Regions from separate parts of the Homo sapiens genome. Here region 2 is linked to region 1. A link means that fine-mapping ties the variant in region 1 to the expression of a gene that starts in the linked region. Tissue or cell type: tibial artery. Region 1 holds a variant in brackets; the other region holds the start of a gene. All regions are shown on one strand. Distances are between the middles of the regions.

Region 1 (6,097 bases):
TTAACCTAGGGAACAAGATGAAATTGGAAGCTTCAAAAATAATGATCTCTGTCTGAAACAGAATAGTAGTAAACAATTTAAATAAAAAGGAACAAGGCCGGGTGTGGTGGCTTACACCTGTAATCCCAGCACTTTGGGAGGCCAAGGCAGATTGATCATAAAGTCAGGAGTTCGAGACCAGCCTGGCCAACATAGTGAAACCCCCGTCTCTATTAAAAATACAAAAAATTAGCTGGGCATGGTGGCGGGTGCCTGTAATCTCAGCTACTCCGGAAGCTGAGGCAGGAGAGTCGCTTGAACCTGGGAGGTGGAGGTTGCAGTGAGCCAAGATCGCGCCATTGCACTCCAGCCTGAGCGACAGTGCAAGACTCCGTCTCAAAAAAAAAAGAAACAAAGTAGAAAGAAAAGACAATGAAAATGGTTTTCTTGTTGAATTGTACATATGTACAGAGACTTTTTTTGCCTCATTATTCTTTATACCTTTCATACATTGCATATATGTATTTGTATCTACTCTGTTAATAAAATCAATGTTTAAAAGACAAGAGGAAATATACTAAAATGCTAATAGTAGAGATAGTGCCACTAAAGGCTACGTTATAGTTATTTTTCTTTATTCTTTATTATTTTCAGTATTTTTTCATATATATAACATATAGCTTTAGGGGTACAAGTGGTTTTGGGTTACATAGTAGATGAATTATATAGTTGGTGAAGTCTGGACTTTTAATGTGCCCATCACATAAAGAGTGTACACTGTAATCAATAGGTGATTTTTAATCCCTTACCTTCCGTGTATTTTCCAAATATTAAAATAAGAAAGCATTACTTTTGGCCTGGCATGGTGGCTCATGCCTGTAATCCTAGCACTTTGGAAGGTCGAGGTGGGCAGATCACTTGAGGTCAGGGGTTCAAAACCAGCCTGGCCAATATGGTGAAACCCTGTCTTTACTAAAAATACAAAAAATTAGCTGGGTGTGCTAGCGGGCGCTTGTAATCACAGCTACTCAGGAGGCTGAGGCAGGAGAATCACTTGAACCTGGGAGGCAGAGGTTGCAGTGAGCCAAGATTACACTCTAGCCTGGGTGACAGAAGAGACTTTGTCTCAAAAAAAAAAAAAAAAACTTTACTTTTTAAATGAGAAATTTGAAAAACATATGAACACACACAGACATTATATGAATATATAAAAATGCGTGTGTGGATAGATATAGATATATGAGGTATCTGTATTTGCATTAAAAAGTCTTCGAATCATTCTTTTTTTTTTTTTTTAAATTGAGATAGGGTCTCCCTCTGTTGCCCAGGCTGGAGTATGGTGGCACAATCATAGTTCACTGCAGCCTCAAACTCCCAGGCTCAAATGATCCTCCCACTTCAGCCTCCTGAGTTGCTGGGACTGCAGGTGTGCACCACCACACCCAGCAATTTTTTTTTTTTTAATTTTTATAGAGACGGGGACTCACTATGTTGCGTAGGCTGGTCTCAAACTGCTACCACCAATCTTACATGTGCTTACTGAAAATAACCCCCTGCGGCTGGGCGCGGTGGCTCACGCCTGTAATCTCAGCACTTTGGGAGGCCGAGGCGGGCAGATCACCTGAGGTCAGGAGTTCAAGACCAGCCTGGCCAACATGGTGAAACCCTGTCTCTACTAAAAATACAAAAATTAGCCAGTGTGGTGGTGCATGCTTATAATCCCAGCTACTCAGGAGGCTGAGGCAGGAGAATCGCTTGAACCTGGGAGGCGGAGATTGCAGTGAGCCAAGATTGCGCCACTGTACTCCAGCTTGGTGGACAGAGCGAGACTCTGCCTTTAAGAAAAAAAAAAAGGGGCGGGCGCGGTGACTTATGCCTGTAATCTCAGCACTTTGAGAGGCTGAGGCAGGTGGATCACGAGGTCAGGAGATCGAGACCATCCTGGCTAACACAGTGAAACCCCGTCCCTACTAAAAATACAAAAAATTAGCTGGGCGTGGTGGCGGGTGACTGTAGTCCCAGCTACTCAGGAGGCTGAGGCAGGAGAATGGCATGAACCCGGCAGGCGGAGCTTGCAGTGAGCCAAGATTGCACCACTGCACTCCAGCCTGGGCGACAGAGCGAGACTCCGTCTCAAAAAAAAAAAAAAAGTTGTTTTGGAACAGTCTCTGGAAGAATAGGCAATAGCCTGTCTGGATGTGGTGGTTACTTTTAATCTCCTCTCTGGTGACTAATCTTCCCTGGTTGTTTGATGAGATTTCTAGGAAGAGAGTTTAAGACAATTGCATTTAATACAATTGGAAGAACTTCCCTCAGTCATATAAGGGAAAGAACTTCCGCAACTGCTCCCTCCTGCTCTTTGGAAGGGAATGATGGGGACAGGGAGCAGAAGGTCAGAGGGAGACCTTGTTTCTGAGGCTTATTTCTGAGGCCTTTCAATCTCCTTTGTTCAAAGCACCCAGCATGCCAAAGCACCATATTTTGGAGCATCATTTTCTGAGCCCCAACACTTGGTTGGATGGAAGACTGG[A/G]AGAATAAAAAAAAAAAACAAAAAAAAAACAGTGCCACAGTGCTGACTTTTCTGGGGAACCTTTTTTTTGTTTGTTTTCCGAGACAGGGTATGACTCTGTTGCCCAGGCTAGAGTGCAGCAGTGTAATCATAGCTCACTGCAGCCTTGACCTCCCGGGTCCAAGCGATCCTGGGGATCCTTTTGACAGCTGTCATCAATTATTTATACCTGCAACCTTCTCCAGAGGAGTGTCTTTGGGTGATCGAAGTCACCTCGTTTGGAGGTGTCTGGAAGTTAAGTCATCACCCGGAGCCAATGGAGTAGGAAGCCTCCATGAAGCTGGAAGGCAGGTCCAGATTTCTGGCCTAGTGACCACTAGTTAGATGGTGGAGGGACTAAGAGACACAGAGTGGAGGATCAGATTTGTTAGGGGCAGCAGTAGAGGCTGGTTCTTTCTTTCTCGCTCATTATTTATTATTTTTCGAGACAGGGTCTCATTCTCTCACCCAAGCTGGAGTGAGGTGGCATCATCACAGCACACTGCAGCCTCAACCTCCTGGGCTCAAGCAACCCTCTCATCTCAGCATCCAGAGTAGGTAGGACTATAGGCATGTGCCACCACACCCAGTTAATCTCTCACTTTTTCAAAACAGAGTTTGAGAGCTTAAATAACTTTCTACCTCACTGGCTCCTCCTTCTCTCTCCTTTGCAGTTTTACTATTACAAAAAAAAAAAAAAAGTCTGGGTGTGGTGGCTCATGCCTGTAATCCCAGCATTTTGGGAGGCCGAGGCAGGCGGATCACCTGAGGTTGGGAGTTCGAGACCAGCCTGACCAACATGGAGAAACCCCGTCTCTACTAAAAATAGAAAATTAGCCGGGCGTGGTGGTGCATGCCTGTAATCCCAGCTACTCGGGAGGCTGAGGCAGGAGAATCGCTTTAACTCGGGAGGCGGAGGTTGCAGTAGCCGAGATGGCACCACTGCACACCAGCCTGGGCGACAGAGTGAGACTCCATCTCAAAAATAAATAAAATAAAATAATTACATAAATAAAAAAGAGTGTTGCTGTGTATTATTTGGGTGATTTGAATTTATTTATTTTTATCATTATTTTTTGAGATGGAGTTTCACTCTTGTTGCCCAGGCTGGAGTACAATGGCGCAATCTCAGCTCACCTCAACCTCTGCCTCCCGGATTCGAGCAATTCTCCTGCCTCAGCCTCCCGAGTAGCTGGAACTACAGGCGCCCACCACCACCTGGCTAAGTTTTTTATTTTTAGTAGAGATGGGGTTTCGTCATGTTGGCCAGGCTGGTCTCGAACTCCTGACCTCAGGTGATCCACCCACCTCAGCCTCCTAAAGTGCTGGGATTACAAGCGTGAGCCACCGCACCCAGCTAACATTCTTTTTTTTTTTAATTAAAGACTCAAATTATCTATCCTTTCTCTGTATAAATCCAGTTTAACTTCTCCCCTCTGAATTTCCCATTCTTGTTAGTTTGTTATGAATTTTTCCATAACTTTCTCTCTATATATATATCCACATAGGAGAGGCAGTCCAAGGCAATGGTTAGGGGATTGGTCTCTGGAGTAGGCCTTCCTGGGCTCAAATCTTGATTTTGTCACCACAAAAGCTGTATGATCTCAGATAAATTGTCTAATCTTTTTAAGCCTCAATTTCTACAATCTATAAAATGGGTGTGGTAACATTAACTATCTCATAGGGTTATTGTTAGGATATATGAGTTAATATGTGTAAAATACTTCTAATAGTGGTTAGCATGTGGTAAGTACTAATGGTTACTTATACACACCCATGGGAAAAGTGGAACATTATTTTGAGTATTTTAAAAACATAATGATGTCATAATGAATTTATGTCAATCAGCAATTCATTTTTTTGAGACGGAGTTTCACTCTTGTTGCCCAGGCTGGAGTGCAGTGGCGCGATCTCAGCTCACTGCAACCTCCGCCTCCCGGGTTGAAGTGATTCTCCTGCCTCAGCCTCCTGAGTGGTGGGATTACAGGCGCCCACCACCACGCCTGGCTAATTTTGTATTTTTAGTAGACACCGGGTTTCACCATGTTGGCCAGGCTGGTCCCAAACTCTTGACCTCAGGTGATCCACCTGCCTCAGCCTCCCAAGGTGCTGGGATTACATGCATGAGCCACCGCGCCCAGCCATGCAATTCATTTTTTTTAACTCAAAAATATATCTCAAAGATCCTCTCCTGTCAGTCCAGATCCATGGAACTTTTTTAAACTGCTGCTTAGTGTTCCATTCTGTAGGCAGTTGATTGAAATATTCCTCGATTTGTGAAAATTTAGGTGGTTTCCAATTTCTTACAACTACATTGCAATGAACTACTAATTGATTTCCTTATTTCCACTCTTGTTCCCTTCCCTCGATGATAACTGAAATTGTGAACAGAGTGGACCAGATGTGTCTATCCTTCTTTCCAGCCCTGAAATTCTGCTTCAGTGATTCAGACCACATAGTCTCCCATTCACAGAGAACGAGAACTTGAAGCTCAGCCTAACATAAGCAGGTAAAATGATAGGAGAGGAAACTCTTGGACCAGGCTTACCTCCTGTTCATTTGGAAGGAATTGGGAAGCTCTTGCATACATCCTGGCCTCCTGGCATTGCCTCATTCATTCATTTATTCATTCAGTCAGTTACCTTCTGCCTAGTAGTCCCCAGACAACAATAGTTCTGATGCTTCTTCCTTCCTAATATAAGGCAAACTACCTTTACCCCCACCTTGACCCAAGCCTGTCTACTCCATTGTTGGCAGGCACATGCCTGGTTGTTGGGTGATGTGGGTGCTGAAAGTGGGACAGTCACAGCCCAGGCAGACCCCTGCCCTCCCTTTGCCCCACCATCTATCCAGCTCCTGCCTTTCTCCTTGTATTGCCATCCACACTTCAGGGCCTCGCGAGCAAATGGTTTTGCATTTATCACCTGCTAATACACTAGATCATTTACTTATTTATCTCATCTGGCATCTGTCTTCTCCCCTAGAATAACAGTTCCACGAGGACAGGAATTTTGTCTGTCTTTTTACTGTGGTATCCCCACACTTAGTATGGTGACTTGGCACATAGCAGGTGCTCAATAAATGCTGCAGCAACTGGGCATTTGTGTGACTGGATGAGTGTTATCTCTTGGAATGAAACCTAGAAATGGAAGTCCTACATCATAGGGCATACTTATTTGACATTTTAATAGTTGTCAATAGGCTGAGCGCAGTGGCTCACACCTGTAATCTCTGCATTTTGGGAGGCTGAGGCGGGCAGATCACCTGTGGTCAGGAGTTCCAAACCAGCCTGGCCAACATGGTGAAACCCCGTCTCTACTAAAAACTAAAAAATTAGCTGGGCGTCATAGTGGGTGCCTGTAATCCCAGCTACTCAGGAGGCTGATGCAGGAGAATCACTTCCCGGAAGGGGGAGGTTCAGTGAGCCGAGATCACGCCATTGCACTCCAGCCTGGGTGAAAGAGCGAAATTTTGTCTCAAAAAAAAAAAAAATTAAAAAATTAGCCGGGCATGCTGTGAGGTGCTTGTAATCCCAGCTACTCAGGGAGGCTGAGGCACAAGAATTGTTTG
Region 2 (6,097 bases), 260 kb before region 1:
AGGCGGCTGGGAGATGGAGGTTGTAGCGAGCTGAGATCACGCCACTGCACTCCAGCCTGGGCACCATTGAGCACTGAGTGAACCAGACTCCGTCTGCAATCCCGGCACCTCGGGAGGCCGAGGCTGGCGGATCACTCGCGGTTAGGAGCTGGAGACCAGCCCGGCCAACACAGCGAAACCCCATCTCCACCAAAAAAGTACGAAAACCAGTCAGGCGTGGTGGCGCGCGCCTGCAATCGCAGGCACTGGGCAGGCTGAGGCAGGAGAATCAGGCGGGGAGGTTGCAGTGAGCCGAGATGGCAGCAGTACAGTCCAGCTTCGGCTCGGCATCAGAGGGAGACAGTGGAAAGAGAGGGAGAGGGAGACCGAGAGGGAGAGGGGAGAGGGGAGAAGGGAGAGGGGAGAGGGGAGAGGGGAGAGGGGAGAGGCAAAAGAAACAAATCTTATCAGAGACCTTCTCTGTCCATCCTCATCAGCCTTCCCATCCCCACCCCCTCCATGCACACACCACTCTAACCCCTTCCCTTGCCTTTCCTCTTCTCAGCACTTATCACCACCCAACATATGTTTATCCACTTATTTTCTATCTCCACCAACTAAAGTGTCAGCTGCATGAAAGCAAGGACCTTCTTTTCTTTCACTGCTACATGTCTTTCACTGTTATTATTTCACAACCATCATAACATAAATGAATATTTATTGAGAGAATCCCATTTTATAGATTAGGAAACTGAGGTACAGGCTGATTTAGCAACTTGCTCTAAGTTGCCCACCAAGTCAGTGGTGGGGCCAGAACTTAAATGCTGATAGAGGCCCCTCTGTCCTCCAGGACCTGAGAGTCTAGTCCTCATTTTTACAAGCACACATGTGCACACACACACACACACACATGCACACGATGTTGTTACCTGATGGCACATGACCCAGAACCAGGAGAGCCACAAGGAACAGAAGCAGCTGTGTCATGGCCACGGGGCTCCTGGGGAGGCTGCTGGAGAGAGCACAAGAGGAAAGACCCGAGCAGGCTGAGCCTCGCTGCTTCCAGCCCAGGCTTTATTGAGCTGCAGATGAAGGCAGTGCTGTGGGCAGCAGGCCTAAGTGGGAGTATGAGGCCATGTGGTCCCCAGGCTGCTTGGGATTTCAGCCAGCTACGTGGGAACTGGTCAGCCACACCCTCCGGAGCCTGTTGAGCTCGGAAGGGGAGGTAGAATTTTCTGAGGCAGTGTCTAGGGTCAGAAACTAGACATCTTCCCCACCTAAGAGAGTGGAAAAAATCTTGGCTTAAGAGAGACCTAGTTCAATCCCCCGCATCTCCCCCTAACTGCTGTGAGACATCAGACAAGTCACTTAACCTCTCTGAGCCTCAGGCTGTTGTCTATGAAATGATGACAAGCATCCCTTACAAGGCCAAGTGAACAGCATGTATGCAGGCCTACTCTAAAATGGGAAGAGTAATAGTACCCATGTCATAGAGAGTAATAGCTACCCATCTCATTTAGGGGACTAAATGAAGTAATACAGTGGCTCCTATACTATGGTTCCCCCAGCAAGCAGCAGCAACACCTGGGACTTGTTAGAAACACCAGTTCTTTAGCCCTACCCCAAACCTACTGAATTCACCTCTTCCTAAGCAGAAGAAGGCCACAGGTCACAGAGCAGCCCATGGGTCACAGGTTAAACCACTGGTTACAAGTTAGACCACAGATTCACTAACACTGGTCACAAGTTAGCTCTCTGGTCATTTGTTAGATCACTAGTCATAGATGAGAGTATGGGTGGGTCCCGGCAAAATGTGGCTTAACAAGCCCTCCAAGTGATTCTAACACACCGCCAAAGTTTGAGAACCCCTGAGATAATATCCGTGCAGAGCTTAGAACAGTGTCTGGTACACAGGAATCTAAGTTGCATCATGAAAGATGAGTAGGGGAAAAGGTATCCCGGGCAGAAAGAATAGAATGTGCCTAGAAGAGTAGGGCATGAGCCAAGCAAGGGTTTTCCTGGGAGGAGAGGTTGAAATGATTCTGCAGAGAATAGGTTGGGGCTTGAATGCCAAGTTCAGACTTTTGTATTATAGACAACCAAAAGTTTTTTAGCAAGAGTGTAAGCTGTTCATATTATAGTTTTAAATAAAGAAACTGAAACCCAAAGAGGGAAGTTGACTTGCCTAAGGTCACACAGCAATTGTGCTGCAGAGATGGAAAAGCCAAGTCACCTCACTCCCAGACAATGAAGGGTGCTGCACCACTCATGGCCCATCTTGCAAGTTAGAAAGGTAAGCTTAGAGGGCCAAGCCACGGAAGGAAGCCAGGCACGAGGGGGTTCTGTATCAGCTCCAAGACCTGTGGGGGCTGAGCCAGTCTGTTCAGCTGCTGTGGGAGTTATTCCAAGCTGAACACCTGAATCCCCTCAGCCATGACAATGAGCCCCACCCACAGGTGCAGCCTGGTCTCCATGGGCTCCACACACAGACACACCCCAATTTCTCAAGACCTAAAGGGAGGCAGCCCAGTCAAAGAGTCTGGATCCTGGCCCCTTGGATGGCCGACGTCACCAGCAATCTCTTTCCTCCTCCTCCATACCTGGGAGCATTTTTTTTTTCAGCCATCAGTAATAGAAACAGTAGACAGAGTGGCAGAGACCTCAGGCCCAGGCCCAGCTAAGCCTCAGTTGGTGAATGAATGAATGATGCCAAAATAAGATTTTCATAATTCTTCAGTGCAGACTTCCTGAGCTCTCTCTTCCTCCAAGCCACCTCCCAAAATTAATTCTTCATCCAGAGCAGAGTTTCTTAAAGTGAGGTCAGTGAACCGCCTGCATCAGGATCACTTGGGGCACTTGTTTAAAACGCAGATTCCCGAACCCCTCCCCCAGCACCGTGGAATCCGCCTCTCTTGGAAGGCGGGACCTGAAAATTTAGCAAGTTCCCCAAGTGGTTTTTCTGGGGGCTAATATGTTAGTGCATCCCCTTGATGGAGTGGACAGATGTGGACGCAGATGGAGCTCCAGACCCAGGAATCCAGAGCCCCCATCCTTCCTTTCTCGTCTGCCACCCTCACCCGGTGCGTAGGGCTGGCAGAAGCGGGTCAGCTGAGCTCTGCACTTTCAGAAAAGTCACTGAGCGGCCAGGGCCTTGGGGCGGGGACCCCGGGGCTGCCCTAATGGGGCGGGGCTGGATGGGGCGGGGTCGCGGCTCCTCCCCCGGCCGAGGCGGCGAGGGGAGGGGAACTGGCCTGAGGGGCTGCTCACTGAGGCGGGTGGTACAGCCTGGAGCATCCAGCCGCTGGAGCTGCGAGGGACCCTGGACCCCTCCCACGCCGAGGTAAAGCCCTGCGCTACGCGCCGCCAACTTGCTCAAGTTGGAGCAGAGTTCGCCAGGCGATTGAAGGGGGATTCGGCAGCGTTGGCAGGAATAGGGGGGCTTCGAAACCGCGTCCCTAGGGTGAGGGTCTTCAGACCTGGGACCCGGAGGGCTGGATAGCCCTGGACAAAGACCCCTCCAACCCCAGGATGGGGGATTCACACCCGGGATGCCGGCTGAGAAAGCTCGGACCCAGACTCCAGGAATGGCACAGCGTTCCCGGGCCCTGTGGTCTGCCCTCCCCGTCCCCTGCCAGGACCCTGTCCTGTCACCTAACCTGGGGCCTGACCGGCGGCAGCTCCCGTCCCCAAAAGCAGTTGGAGGCCGTAGCGCCAGCCGCTCCTGAATTTTTCACACAGGGGGCGGGTCAGACACGCGGTTCCCATGGCACTAGGGCACTCGGGTTACAGTCGGGTTACCCCCATACCCCCCTCGCGCTTCTGGAGTGCCAACCCGCCCTCCTGCCTCTTCCTCCTCAGACCCCGTGAAATTGGGCATCGAAAGTTAAGTAGCCCCTACCCTTGGGGGAGACCTGAAACTGCACTCCCAACCCAGAAGCTGTGAAAGAGAGCGGTGGGGAAGGGGAGGAGGGGGACAATTCAGATGTCTTTCAGAGCCAGGGCCTCATGTTCTGTGGCAAGGGCAGGTCCGTGTACACGGAATGGGGAGTGTGCATGTGAGGACATCCCACCTTACTACTGCCCCTCCACCTGCCTGTCTGTCATCAGGAGTAGATCATCCTTAAGACAAGGGAATGGCCTCTGGGTGTGCATGTCTGTGTGTTCACAGCCTGCACACTCACTCCTTCCATCCGGATCCAGGTTTATGCAGAGCCTGAGGCCAGAAAACCTAGGGACTTTCTGCCCCAAGAAGCTGAGGCACCTCCTACTCCCATCTGAACAAGAGGGGGATCTGGAAGAAGCCATACAGCAGCTCATCAGGACACTATAGAAAGAAGCAGCTCAAAGCAATTGGCTGACAGCCAATTCCCCCTTCTTTCAGAAGGAAAGAAGGAAGAAGCAAACCCCCCCCTACCAAAGATGACACTCAACACCGAGCAGGAAGCAAAGACCCCTCTGCACCGGCGAGCCAGCACCCCACTGCCCCTGTCCCCACGGGGCCACCAGCCTGGCCGCCTGAGCACAGTGCCTTCCACTCAATCCCAGCATCCCCGGCTGGGCCAATCAGCCTCCCTCAACCCTCCCACCCAGAAACCTTCACCTGCCCCAGATGATTGGTCTTCTGAATCCAGCGACTCTGAAGGCTCCTGGGAGGCTCTCTACCGTGTGGTGCTACTTGGAGATCCTGGAGTGGGGAAGACCAGCTTGGCCAGCCTCTTTGCAGGGAAGCAAGAGAGGGACCTCCATGAACAGCTGGGAGGTAGGGGCCATATGGGCTGGGCTGGGATGTGGCCAAAGGAGCGAAAGCCCTGTCACCAGGGACACAGGGCTGCCAAGAACAGTTGTACAAGTCATGCACTGTTCAACTCTAAGGGGCATCATTCACTTAGACTATGACATGCACGATGCCCCCCCGCCCTCCAAAGTTGTACAGGGCACAGCCTGCACAATGGTCAAGGGGAGGGAAATTCTTGAATAGAACAAGAATTTTGCCAACTTCCCATGAATGAGAAGTATATGATTCATTTCCATGTCATGCGGGTGGCAATTCTGAATTCCATGTTAAGAAATGGTGGACTTCCACCAAGGTCAGAAACTCCCCTCCCTGACTCCTCTGACTCTTAGATTCTCCCAGTCCCATAGACACCCATCCATGGTCACCATGATCTACAGCAAAACTAAGATCCTTTGCAGAAGGGAGACTCCGAGACCCCAAGTTCTGGGCCCTGGGTTGCTTTATTCCCAAGAACTGCTGTGAGCTGAGAGTGTCGGGGGCCCCAGGATGATGGGGTACAGGGAAGATAGAAGAGATGAAGGTAGGCCCCTGAAGGACTGGCCAAAAGGACATAGGGTGAGTGGGGGAAGGGGGTTGATTAAATGCAGAGAAAAGGTAGGGACATCTAGCCAGACTCCTCTCTAGTCTTGACTTCTCTCTCCGAGTGAGAACACATATGTGTTACAGATAGGGAGACTGAGGTCAAGAGAGGATAACATGACCTGCCTGAAGCACTCACTAAATCAGAGACAGAGCAGGCCTGGGAGAATTCCTAGCCCAACTTTAACCCCACCACCCCACCTTCATTCAATCAATCAAATCTTTCTGGCACCTACTATGTGCCAGGTACTATGGCAGCTGGGGAGACATGGGCTCCTACCAGGAGAGACAGGCATCAAACAAGTGTGATAAGCGTTTCCGAGGACAAGTGGAGGGGGCGATATGACCAGAAATGGGGGGCAGGGAACACCACACTCTCTCAGGCTTGCCCGTCCTCCCTGAGATCCAGCTCTTCCCTCGGTTGCAGAAGATGTATATGAGAGGACCCTCACGGTGGATGGAGAAGACACCACACTGGTGGTCGTGGACACCTGGGAGGCCGAGAAACTGGTATGGCACTGCAAGCAGAATTTGGGGAGAGGGGTGCTGAGCCTAATACTAGACTCCTTCCTGTCCCCTCCTGGGGACACTACAGATCAGGTGTGAGCAACGGCCATCCTCAGCACCCTCCCCCAAAACCCACAGCTCCTAAGCAGTCTTTCCAATCCCAAACAGAAGACCCTTATGACCCTGACCCCTTTTCTCACTCCACAATCCCCTCCTAGCAGCCATCTCAGAATGTAC

Alleles and levels. Positions count from the first base shown, and alleles are read on the strand shown. Sizes are in standard deviations (SD) of each study's normalised expression.
In carriers of allele A in region 1, the expression in tibial artery of the gene that starts at base 3,241 in region 2 tends to be higher than with G alone (moderate effect, 0.66 SD a copy in GTEx).

What was found. PIP is the estimated chance that this variant, and not a neighbour inherited with it, causes the effect.
Region 2: it holds the start of REM1, and the variant in region 1 is fine-mapped to the expression of REM1 in tibial artery (GTEx, PIP 0.99).

What each region holds. Positions count from the first base shown.
Region 1 is chr20:31,728,869-31,734,965 of GRCh38, forward strand. No RefSeq gene overlaps it. Among named protein-coding and RNA genes, the nearest start is that of TPX2, 7.4 kb to the right of the region's middle. The variant A/G (reference allele first, on the strand shown) is at 2,510.
Region 2 is chr20:31,472,048-31,478,144 of GRCh38, forward strand. REM1 (RRAD and GEM like GTPase 1) reads left to right here and starts at 3,241. Exons shown (of 5, transcript NM_014012.6): 1 at 3,241-3,319; 2 at 4,180-4,738; 3 at 5,781-5,863. The coding sequence starts at 4,399. DEFB124 (defensin beta 124) reads right to left here and starts at 3,080. Exons shown (of 3, transcript NM_001037500.2): 1 at 2,580-3,080; 2 at 909-991. The coding sequence starts at 966. RefSeq lists a silencer at 3,133-3,192.